Regions from separate parts of the Homo sapiens genome. Here region 2 is linked to region 1. Evidence: fine-mapped expression QTL. A gene starts in region 1. The other region holds a variant in brackets. All regions are shown on one strand. Distances are between the middles of the regions.

The links. PIP is the estimated chance that this variant, and not a neighbour inherited with it, causes the effect.
Region 2: its variant is the best candidate, but not a certain one, in a credible set for the expression of PALMD in subcutaneous fat (TwinsUK, PIP 0.54).

Annotation. Positions count from the first base shown.
Region 1 is chr1:99,644,021-99,649,406 of GRCh38, forward strand. It overlaps PALMD (palmdelphin), which reads left to right and starts at 2,093. Exons shown (of 8, transcript NM_017734.5): 1 at 2,093-2,342. The coding sequence starts at 2,298.
Region 2 is chr1:99,695,251-99,700,636 of GRCh38, forward strand. It overlaps the pseudogene HMGB3P10. Among named protein-coding and RNA genes, the nearest start is that of PALMD, 52 kb to the left of the region's middle. The variant A/G (reference allele first, on the strand shown) is at 3,194.

The DNA of each region.
Region 1 (5,386 bases):
GTGGAAACATCCTAATCTGTATTGCAGTCCAAGGGAGATTGTCAAGACCATCAGAGCTCTGGCTCCAGGATTCCACTCAGGTCCCCCAGATTTTCCCAGCTCCAGCCTTTTCTGCCTACCACTCACATGATGATACCAATCAGTTGTTGCAACTCTGCTCCCTCCTAAATTCCCATCCTCTTTTTTTAAATCTTGTCCTCCCCTACACTAGCAAAATCTTGGGTTTTCCTCTAGCAGAAATGAGATTTGAGAGGTAAATTGTTTTTAGGAAAAGATCCAGACTAATAATTGGATGACTGCCCATTTGTTCTAGGCACCAAATATGCAATTCTGACTGAGATATTTATCATTACTGCTTTCTTGTCTTTAATTTCAGCCAGGATCTACAAATAAACATAATCAGAAGTCTTGAAGGTTTGATTTTTTTTACACTTAAATATGTTTCCAACAGTAATCAAACTTGGCACACATCCAAACAATCCTCCCATTCTCTGGTCTCCCTAAGTATCCCTTCTGAGGGTGTATGAGCAAGGACAAACTACTCTCAAGTATAATTTCAGACTCTTAAAACATGGGTTTCACCTTATAGTGACTGACAGAATGAGGGCTCTGTGGTTGGGGAACTCCAGTCAACAATGTGGGGAAACCTCAGTAGGGCCAATAAGTTTCTCCAGAGGACATTCCCACACCGTTCTGCCTTAGGCTGTTACACCCAGCTGTAGTGTTCTAGGAGCTAGACAGAGAAGGAGGCTGGGGGTCCAACCACTTCTCATAAAGACTGACTTAACCTTCAGCCTGTGCCTCTCCTTGCCCCGTGTCCTTGGGCAGTCCTTGATGAATGCCACTTATAAAGTCAGGCAGCTGGTGTTCCAATCCTGGCTTTGCTACTTACTAGCTATATGGCAAATTACCTCTCTGAGCCTGTTCCCTCATTTTTAAAGTAGGGATTATAGCACTTATCTCTCAGCACTTTGCAAGTATGCATTTACCTGTAGAAAGAATGCAACAAATATTAGCTATTATTATTACTAATATCAAAACTGCAAAGGAAATTAAACCATATGTTCAATGTTTGGGTTGTCCTTTTAACCTCTTCAGCTGAATGTTGATATGAAAGCGCTTAATAGCATTCAAACACATAATAATAAGGTAGTTGGTAATTAGGATTTACTTCAGCAAAATTTAATTAAAGAACCTGTAGGGAAAAGAAAACAGACAGAGCCAATTGTACAGCTTCCCAGCCTCTGCTTTGACCTAAGAGTCTCACTGGGCTTGCCTGCCTTTTTCTAAAGGATGGGCGAATATTCACACAGTGCCGGGCTCCAGGCAGTTACCAAATGTCTCATCACATTTTCAAAGGCTCACTCCTCTCTCTTGCGTAACCGGTGAGGTCAAAATGGGCACCTTCCTGAAAGCCAAGAGTGTCATTTCTGAACAGCGTCCAAGAAAGAAAACTGCATTCCATAGAAATCCAAGTCAAGCAATAACAAAAGGTGGCACTTGGTGCTTAAGCCACACTAAATACCTTGGTGGGCCAACTTCTTAATATAGTCACATTAACACCTTTGATTTCTCCATGACCTAAAGATTCCAAAGTTTGCAACAAAGTGCTGAGCAGGGGGGTCGGGGGTGGGGTGTAGACGGGGGAGAACGAACCAATGTAAATTTACCACTACATGAAGTTTAAAGTAGCTATAGATTGTTGTATTATTATCAAATCCAATCAGTGGAAGAAAGGCAAACAAGTGACTTGGCACTTCTGCCTCAGTCAAGGTAAGGCTCTCTCCCCTAGAGCTAGCAAGCAGGTAAACGAGCTTTGTACAAACACACACAGACCAACACATCCGGGGATGGCTGTGTGTTGCTAGAGCAGAGGCTGATTAAACACTCAGTGTGTTGGCTCTCTGTGCCACTCCTGGAAAATAATGAATTGGGTAAGGAACAGTTAATAAGAAAATGTGCCTTGCTAACTGTGCACATTACAACAAAGAGCTGGCAGCTCCTGAAGGAAAAGGGCTTGTGCCGCTGCCGTTCAAACTTGTCAGTCAACTCATGCCAGCAGCCTCAGCGTCTGCCTCCCCAGCACACCCTCATTACATGTGTCTGTCTGGCCTGATCTGTGCATCTGCTCGGAGACGCTCCTGACAAGTCGGGAATTTCTCTATTTCTCCACTGGTGCAAAGAGCGGATTTCTCCCTGCTTCTCTTCTGTCACCCCCGCTCCTCTCCCCCAGGAGGCTCCTTGATTTATGGTAGCTTTGGACTTGCTTCCCCGTCTGACTGTCCTTGACTTCTAGAATGGAAGAAGCTGAGCTGGTGAAGGGAAGACTCCAGGCCATCACAGTAAGTCTGCATACAGTTATAACTCATTAACGTTGTTACTTAGAGGAAGGCAGACCGTGGCCGGCTGCCCCTGTCGCTGAGCCCTCGCAAGTGGAAAAACAGAACTGTCAGCCTTCATGGACGAGTCTCTGTTTCTCTCTTAACCCTCATGACCCTCTGTAACTCTGGGGCTTCAGAACCTGAGTGCAGGGCAAACGTTCTTGATTTTCAAAAAGGCTGTGCCTGCATTTTAAACAACAATCAAAAGCTGTTAAGGCAGTCTGATTAACTATCTTTCACACTCTGTGGTGTACCTTAGAAATGCAGTTTTTCCTTAAATGTCCATTTGACTGGCATTAGATAAAAAAACAGATCCCCAACTTGGAAACTTTTTTAAGCTATGAATGCCTCAAAAAGTTAGAATTTTTTTTAAAGAGAGAAAAAGAAATTTTAAAAATGACCTGAAACTTTATATTTGTAGTGTGGTAGCATGTTCCAGAAAGCCTAAAATAATTAAAATGAATGTTAATATACGTAATTTAAGCATTAAACAAGAGAAAACTAGGTAAAAGCACGTATCAGATTAATTCTAAGATATCAGTTTCCAGCAGAGTCACAAACTGAATAAGATCCTGATAAAGGAATGCAGTGCATGCAGTGGATTTGGAAAATATTTTGTTAATACCGAGAAGGAAAATCGTACATTTTTTATGTTTGTTCCGGGAAAAAGTCAAAGCCAGAAATAAATTACTTTTCTTAAATGATCCAGCTTTCTTTTTAATTTTATAAAACCCTGTATTTGGCAGTAACTTGGAAATCTGTGTCACAATCATTTATCCCTAGCTATAACTTTTGATGTAATTGTTTTAAGAAGAAAAAGATCTTTGGAAAGCAATATCCCAATTTCTCAGCATTTTCTGCCACTGACATTAGGTATAGGAAAAAAATGAGTACTTTTTAAAAACTGATGCTAGATCAGGGATTTTTTGTTGTTGTTCTTAAAATTTTCATTGCATAACTAATTATGCTAATCCTAATTTAGATTTTTTACTAATTGATACAATATCTTAGTTTCACCCAGGAAACATTCAGTAAATTGAAATGTCTTCTTAGCCAATAGTAAGACACCAGAAGTCTATTGATAAGGTTGGCACTTTTCCATAAAACAATGCTTTGTTAAATGTCTAGCTTCTAATTATTACATTTTCCTCTCTTCAGAAAACCTTGGTCGGGATTATTGTTTGTTTTGTTTTGTCCTTTTTTGTCATTAAACTCAGCCACCATCTCAGCTGTCCTGCTTTAAGGGACAGGAACTCGGCTCTGCTCTGTTGTTTTTGGCATGGGCCTTTTACATTACAGCTGTTGTCTAAAGGTTACTTTATTAGACTGCGTGAGTTGTGTGGTCACAGGCTCCACTATTTCTAATGCTTATATCTCCTAATTAGCTAATTGAAATAGACAAGTAGACCCTTGTTCTGAATTTGCCTCTTTCAGTTGGGGGACACCCTCGCTCAAGCCCTTTTTCCCTCCAGTGTACCTTATAACTCTTACCAAAGCCACACATGTTCCAAAGATATGGCTGTATACAGTTATTTCTAAGGCTAGGAATCTTAGTCACTGAAGGTTCCAAACGCAAATAGAGACAGAAAATCCTCATAATGTCTTAAAAGCCATCAAGAGAGTAAGTAGCTTCCTGAATATGCAGATGTATGCTTTTTTGATGATTAAAAAAATTTTTGGATTATTCCATCAGCCTAAATATATCCCATTAGAAAGGATTAAACAAATCTCCCAAGTAAGATCACAAAGTAATTCTAGCTTGGAAGTAATATACTTGTATAAAGGTTGTAGGGAAAAAACTGGAAAAAGTTTATGGGAACAAATTTCTCATAAACCAGCCTACACCTCACCAGGCTAAATCCAGTCACATTTGTCACCACCTAGAGGAAAAGTGGAGCAGTGGTGTGTCCATGGAAACAACACATCCACTCTCCTCCCTCTTGGACGCCCTGGGACACGCCAGCTTTCCTCGCCCTCGCCCTTGCCTTGCCCAGGAAGCCACCTCAGCTAGTCTCTTTCCCCCTAGGAAAATAAAATCACAGAGTATGCAGAGAGTTTGCAAGAATTATTTCATTTTTGGAAATGCTTAAGCCTCAGAATCTCCAACCTAGACTAAAACTCAGAGAGTATCTTCTCATTTTAGCTTTTTCCTAGTACTTACCTACACTGAAATAATTTTTTGTATACTTCAAGAATGAAATCAGAAGGCAATTCCCCAATGCACCCAGACATAGCAACACATAGACCTCACTTTGGAGGAAAAAAAAAAAACTTTTACACTCTAGGATCTATTTGCTTTTTACATTAAAATTCGTTTCTCCAATTGCTGGCTATAAAATAAAATAATCTTCACAGTTGTATTTATTCTACCTGGTTTCAAGTGCCTAAAAAGTCATTATTTTTCACTGCAAAGAACTGAAAAAATAAACGTATATACCTAGAATTTGACAGAACAAAGATCCAAGTGCCAGTCTTTTTCTTTTTCTCAAAAAAAAAAAAAAAAAGGTTAAACACATTAAGTAGTTGAAATGTGACACTTAGGCTCTCAAATTGAAAACTAAATTACTATCGTGATGCCATTCATTTCTCATATCAGATCAGTAAATTGAATTTTAGATTAGTCAGATGTCTTCTCAAAGATTTAAAGAGAATAAGAGCAAAATTATGAAAGTATGCAGAAACAATTGTTCAAGGGTAGATACTTCAGTTTGGGTATACCAAATATAGATTCTATTTTACACAATTACTTTCATGTTCTTCCTTAATACTTTATCCATGCACCAACTCTTCCCTTACTAAATTAATGGTCAAAGTACCCCTTTGCCTAGAAGTTCAGTTTTCAACTATAATTTAAACACAGGGCTGCTTAAAATTAATTAACTATTATGTTTGATCTTTAAAATGTCTCTTGAGGCCCTTTTCAAGTCAGTACACACTTGAACAAATAGCTGATCTTTCTACAAAAGGTGAGCTAATTGGAATTCAATAGTATTTTGAAATAGACT
Region 2 (5,386 bases), 51 kb after region 1:
TATCCAGCTCATCCAAGTCTTTCCATGAGAGTCTGTTTCCTCCCAGGACAGAAACTGAATTTCCCTGCTGGGACTATGTATGATCAGACTTTATCTTAATTATTGGTCTGAAGGTAATGAGAGGTCAGAGAAGCAGATGATTCTGAGGAGGACATGCATTAACCTGCAAAGCCTCCATTCCAGCTGAGTGGTTTTGCAAGGGGCAGCTGTTCTCTAGCGGGAGAGAGCTACTTCTGGTGGCCTGAAATGTTCTGGGAAACCTGGAGGTTCAAATTTTTGAAGTAAATTACTTTCAACAAATATCCCTATTCCAGGTCCAGGGACTCCTTCCCTTTCATGGCTCTAAGTTTAGCATAAGTGACCTCTCAAACCTGCACGTTCCTTTGTTGCCCTGCCACCCTTAGGATTGAAGCATGGGTTTTATTTTCACACAGTTTGCCTTCTGTCTACAGCAGACATAGTTCTCTTTAAACATTGCCATGATGCCTGCCTGGCTTTCTGGAATGCCCCGAAATAGTTGGCTGGTCTGAGCCTAATTCTTTTTCTTCAAAGATTCTAAGGCAATTATCAAAAAGCAGCCAACTTCACAGCACATGTCAGTACATGATAATATTTTGCCCCATACTAGTCAAGTGCAGAGCTACTTTATAACCTACCTCTTCCCTTTTTACCTGTACCTCATCTCAATCCAGTATAAGGGAGAGTCTTAGTAACTATAATAGTACAGAGACAAGGTACTGCCTTCTGTTCACCTTCTGCTATGTAACTACAGCCTTTCCAGCAATCGAGACCTACTTAGCAGGTATTTTGTACCTGAGTACAAACCATGGGTTATAACTGAACACAATTTGCTGCTCATATTGGTCCAGGTTTGGCTATTAAAAGCTCATTCAGTTGGCTCCTGTGCCCCTTTGACTTATCCATATAAGTGATTTTGCTTAGTTACTTCCTTACTTTCTGGCATTACAAGATTACCCAGTCTCAGCTTCTTAGTAACTATAATAGTACAGACAGCCAAAGGTTGTTACCATTAACTTATCACACAGTCCTCATTGCCCTCTGACCAGTGAGTGGACTGTCCAGTTCCAGAGTCCCATTCAGAGCATCTGCTCTGTAGAGCCACTCTTGGTTCCAACAAGAAGTACAGCCTGAAATTAGGACTTGGGTACAGTAGTTTGAGAAGTGATCCCAGGAGTAGGAAGAAAAGCACAGGAAAGAATGGTAAATATAATGGTATGTAATAGAAGTCAATGCTTTAGGCACCAGAGACTGAATTTTACTATAATCTCAAAAAGAGTGTACAGAAAGCAGCTAACATTGTCTGTCTGAAGGAGAGAACTTTAGGGCATTTATCCACCAGCTCAGGTCCCTCATTGAATGAGGGAGCATAAATTCCCCCACACTTCTGGATTGCACTTGCATGAGAGTCACACAGGTTGCCTTAGTGCCCAGAGTGAAAAGAAGAAAGAAGCACGGAACATGCCTCTAGAAGGATGGTAAGTCTGAACTCACTTGGAACTGTCCACTGCAGCTATGGTGCTGCAAAAATGGACCATGGGGAAATGACACAGGCACCAACAGTGTCTGCCACACTAGCTGTATAACCCTGGGCAACAAACAACTTACCTGAGCCTGTATCCTTATCTATAAAATGAGGTACATGTCACCTGTCTAACACAGTCATGTGAGGACTCAATTTGTCAGCGAATTAAAAGAACCAGGTGTCCTGCCCATCATCAAGTCTGGCTGAGGTGTCACACATGAAGGTAGACACCATATACCCTTATCATTTCATATCTTGGTGTTTTGTATGTTTAGTGCTCATTTTAGGTCAATGGGGCATTTCAAGTTAAGTGGAGTAGAAGTAAGTAAAGGAAAAGTTTGGGGAAGGGTAAGTGAAATAATAGTTCAGGGTATTTTTTTCCCAGAGACATTCAGTTGGTCCAGCTCTATTTGTTGAAACACTATTATTTTTCACATTGAATTACCTGGACCCGTCTGTTAATTAGTTGGTCCTAGAAGTGAGATCCTACATATGGAGTCTCTGCTCTATTCCATTCATCTGCATATCTCTCATGAATACTGCACACTTTATTTATACTGGTTAATATTGTAGTTTTATAATAAATATTGGAATCGAGTCGGGTTAGGTCCTCCAATCTTATCTTGTTTTTTTAATACACTTTAAAAACAGTTTTAGATTAACAGAAAAATTGAGAAGACAGCACAAAATTACCACATACCCTGTACCCAGATTTTCCTATTTTAACTTCTTACATTAGCATTGTACATCTGTTACAATTAACAATCCAGTAGTGATACAATATTATTAACTAAAGTCTCAAACTTTATTCAGATTCCCTTAGTCTTTAGCTAATGTCCTTTTTCTGTTCCAAAATCCCAAAAAGAAAACCATGGTACTTTTAGTTGTCATGTCTCCTTTTGCTCTGCTTGGCTGTGACTCTTTTTCAGACTTTCCTCGTATTTGGATGACCTTGACAGTTCTGAAAATTGCTGAGTATGTATTTTGTACCAGGGTACAAACCATGGGTTATAATCCAACACAACTTGCTGCTCAAGTTGGTCCAGCTTTGGCTGTTGAAAGCTCATTCAGTAGGCTCCTGTGCCCCTTTGACATATCCCTGTAAGTGATTTTGCTTTGTTTTTTCCTTACTTTCTGGCACTACAAGATGACCCAGTCTCATCCTATGTATTTCTTACCCCAGTTCTGGAATCAGCAACTTATCCAAGAGTTTCTGTTGCTTTTATTGGAGAATGATACAGAAAACAAAATCTGGGCACTAGGCATGCTCATTGCTACTTTGTCTTTTTAAATATTGTCTTGACCATTTAAGGTTCTTTGTCTTCCCATGTGAATTTTAGAATCAGTCTGTAAACCCCTTCAAATGAGGCTGCTAGGCTTTTGATTGGAATTAAATTTATAGATCAATTTGGAGAGAATTTTCATTCTAATATTGTTTGCTGATCCATGACCCCAAGAAACCAAAGGGCAAGATATCTACTTATGCCTTCTTTGTGCAGATGCGCAGAGAACCTAAGAAGAAAAACCCAGTGGTCCCTGTCAATTTTGCAGAATTTTCCAAGAAGTGCTCTGAGAGGTGGAAGACCATGTCTGGGAAAGAGAAGTCTAAATTTGATGAAATGGCAAAGGCGGATAAATTATGCTATGATC[A/G]GGAAATGAAGGATTACATACCAGCTAAGGGAGGCAAGAAGAAGGATCTTAATGCCCACAAAAGACCACCATCTGGATTCCTCCTGTTCTGTTCAGAATTCTGCCCAAGATCAAATTCACAAAGCCTGACATCTCTATTGAAGATGTGGCAAAAAAGCTGGATGAGATGTGGAATAACTTAAATGACAGTGAAAAGGAGCCTTACCTTACTGCATTAGTCCAGTCTCATGCTGCTATGAAGAAAAACCTGAGATGGGGTAATTTATAAAGGAAGGAGGTTTAATTGACTCACAGTTCCGCATTGCTGGGGAGGCCTCAGGAAACTTACAATCATGGCAGAAGGCAAGGAAAAACAAGCACCTTCTTCACAGGGTGGCAAGATGGAGTGAGTGCCAAAAGGGGAAATGCCAGACACCTGTAAAACCATCAGATCTCATGAGAACTCACTATCACAAGAACAGCAACCGCCCCCATGATCCAATTACCTCCACCTGGTCCCACCCTTGACACGTGGGGATTATCAGGATTACAATTCCAGGTGAGATTGAGTTGGGGTCACAGAGCCAAACCATATCAATCACCAAGGCAGCAAAGCTGAAAGAGAAGTATGAGAAGGATGTTGCTGACTACAAGTCTAGAAAGCTTGATGGTGCAAAAGGTCCTGCTAAAGTTGCCCAAAAACAAGTGGAAGAGGAAGATGAAGAAGACGAGGAGGAAGTAAAGGAGGAGGATGAATTAAAAAAACTGTTCATCTATTTTAAAAATGCTTTTCTATAATGACTTTGTGTCCTACACCTCTGATAAGTTCAATTAATTTTAGCATTTTTTAATATATTCCTTAGGATTTTCTACTTAATGATCAGGTTGTCTGCAAATAAAAACAACTTTACTTCTTCCCTAATCTTATGACTTTTATTTCATTTCATTGCTTTATTGCACTAAGGCTTTCAGTACAATGTTACATATAAATGCAGAGAGCAGGCATTCTTTGCCTTGTTCTGATTTTTCAGAGGGGAAGTATTATCTTTCACCATTGAATATAATTTTGGCTGTAGGTTTTTCCTGGATGCTATTTATTACGTTGAGGAAGCTTCCACTCCTAGTTTGCTAAGTTTTTACTATGAATGTGTTTTGAATTTTGTCAAATGCTTTCTCTGCATTTACTGAGATCATCAGAAGGGTTTTCTCCTTTTTTGTCTAAACTGGTGAATTTCATTGACAAATTTTTCAGATGTTATGCCAACAGCGCATTCTTTGCATAAATCTCATTTGGCTTTGATGTATTACTCTTTGTGTAAGTTGCAGAATTTAATTTGCTAATATTTCATTAAGTACTTTTTTAAATTATGGATTTTCAGTTTATGGTCACGGGGAATATAGTCTGTAGTTTCCTTTTCATGTGATGCTTTTGTCTGGTTTTAGTATCAGGGTAATGCAAGCCTTATAATATTAGTTGGGTAATGTTCCCTACTGCTCTATTTTCCGAAAAAGTTTGTGTACTCTCAATATTAGTTCTTCCTAAATGTTTGCTGGAATTCATCAGTGAAGACATTTGGACCTGGAGTTTTCTTTCTGGGAAGGTTTTTTAGTTACATATACAATTTTTTAATTTTTATTTTTAATTGTGGTACAAATACATTAAGATAAAATTTACCATCCTAACCATTTTTATGTGTACAATTCAGTAGTGCTAAGAAAATTAACATTGTTGTGCAACAGAGCCCTAGAACTTTTTCCTCTTGCAACACTGAAACTCTATACCCACTGAACATCATCTCCCCATTTCTCCTTTCCCATCCCTGGCAACCACCATCCTACTTTCTGTTTCTATGAGTTTGACTACTTTCAATACCTCATCTAAGCGGAACCATACAGTATTTTTCTTTTTGTGATGGCTTATTTCACTTAGCTTCACGCTGTCCAGGTTCACTCCTGTCGTTGCATGTGACAGAATTTCCTTATTTTTTAAGGCTGAATAATATTTTACGATGTGTTTATACCACATTTTCTTCATCCATACATGGGCATTTGAGTCGCTTCTGCCTCTTGGCTATTGTGAATAATGCTACAATGAACATGATGTGCAAATATTTCATAGAGATCTCACTTTCAATACTTTTGGGTATATATCCAGAAGTGGAATTGCTGGATCATATGGTAATTCTATTTTTAATTTTTTTGAGGAACATCCAT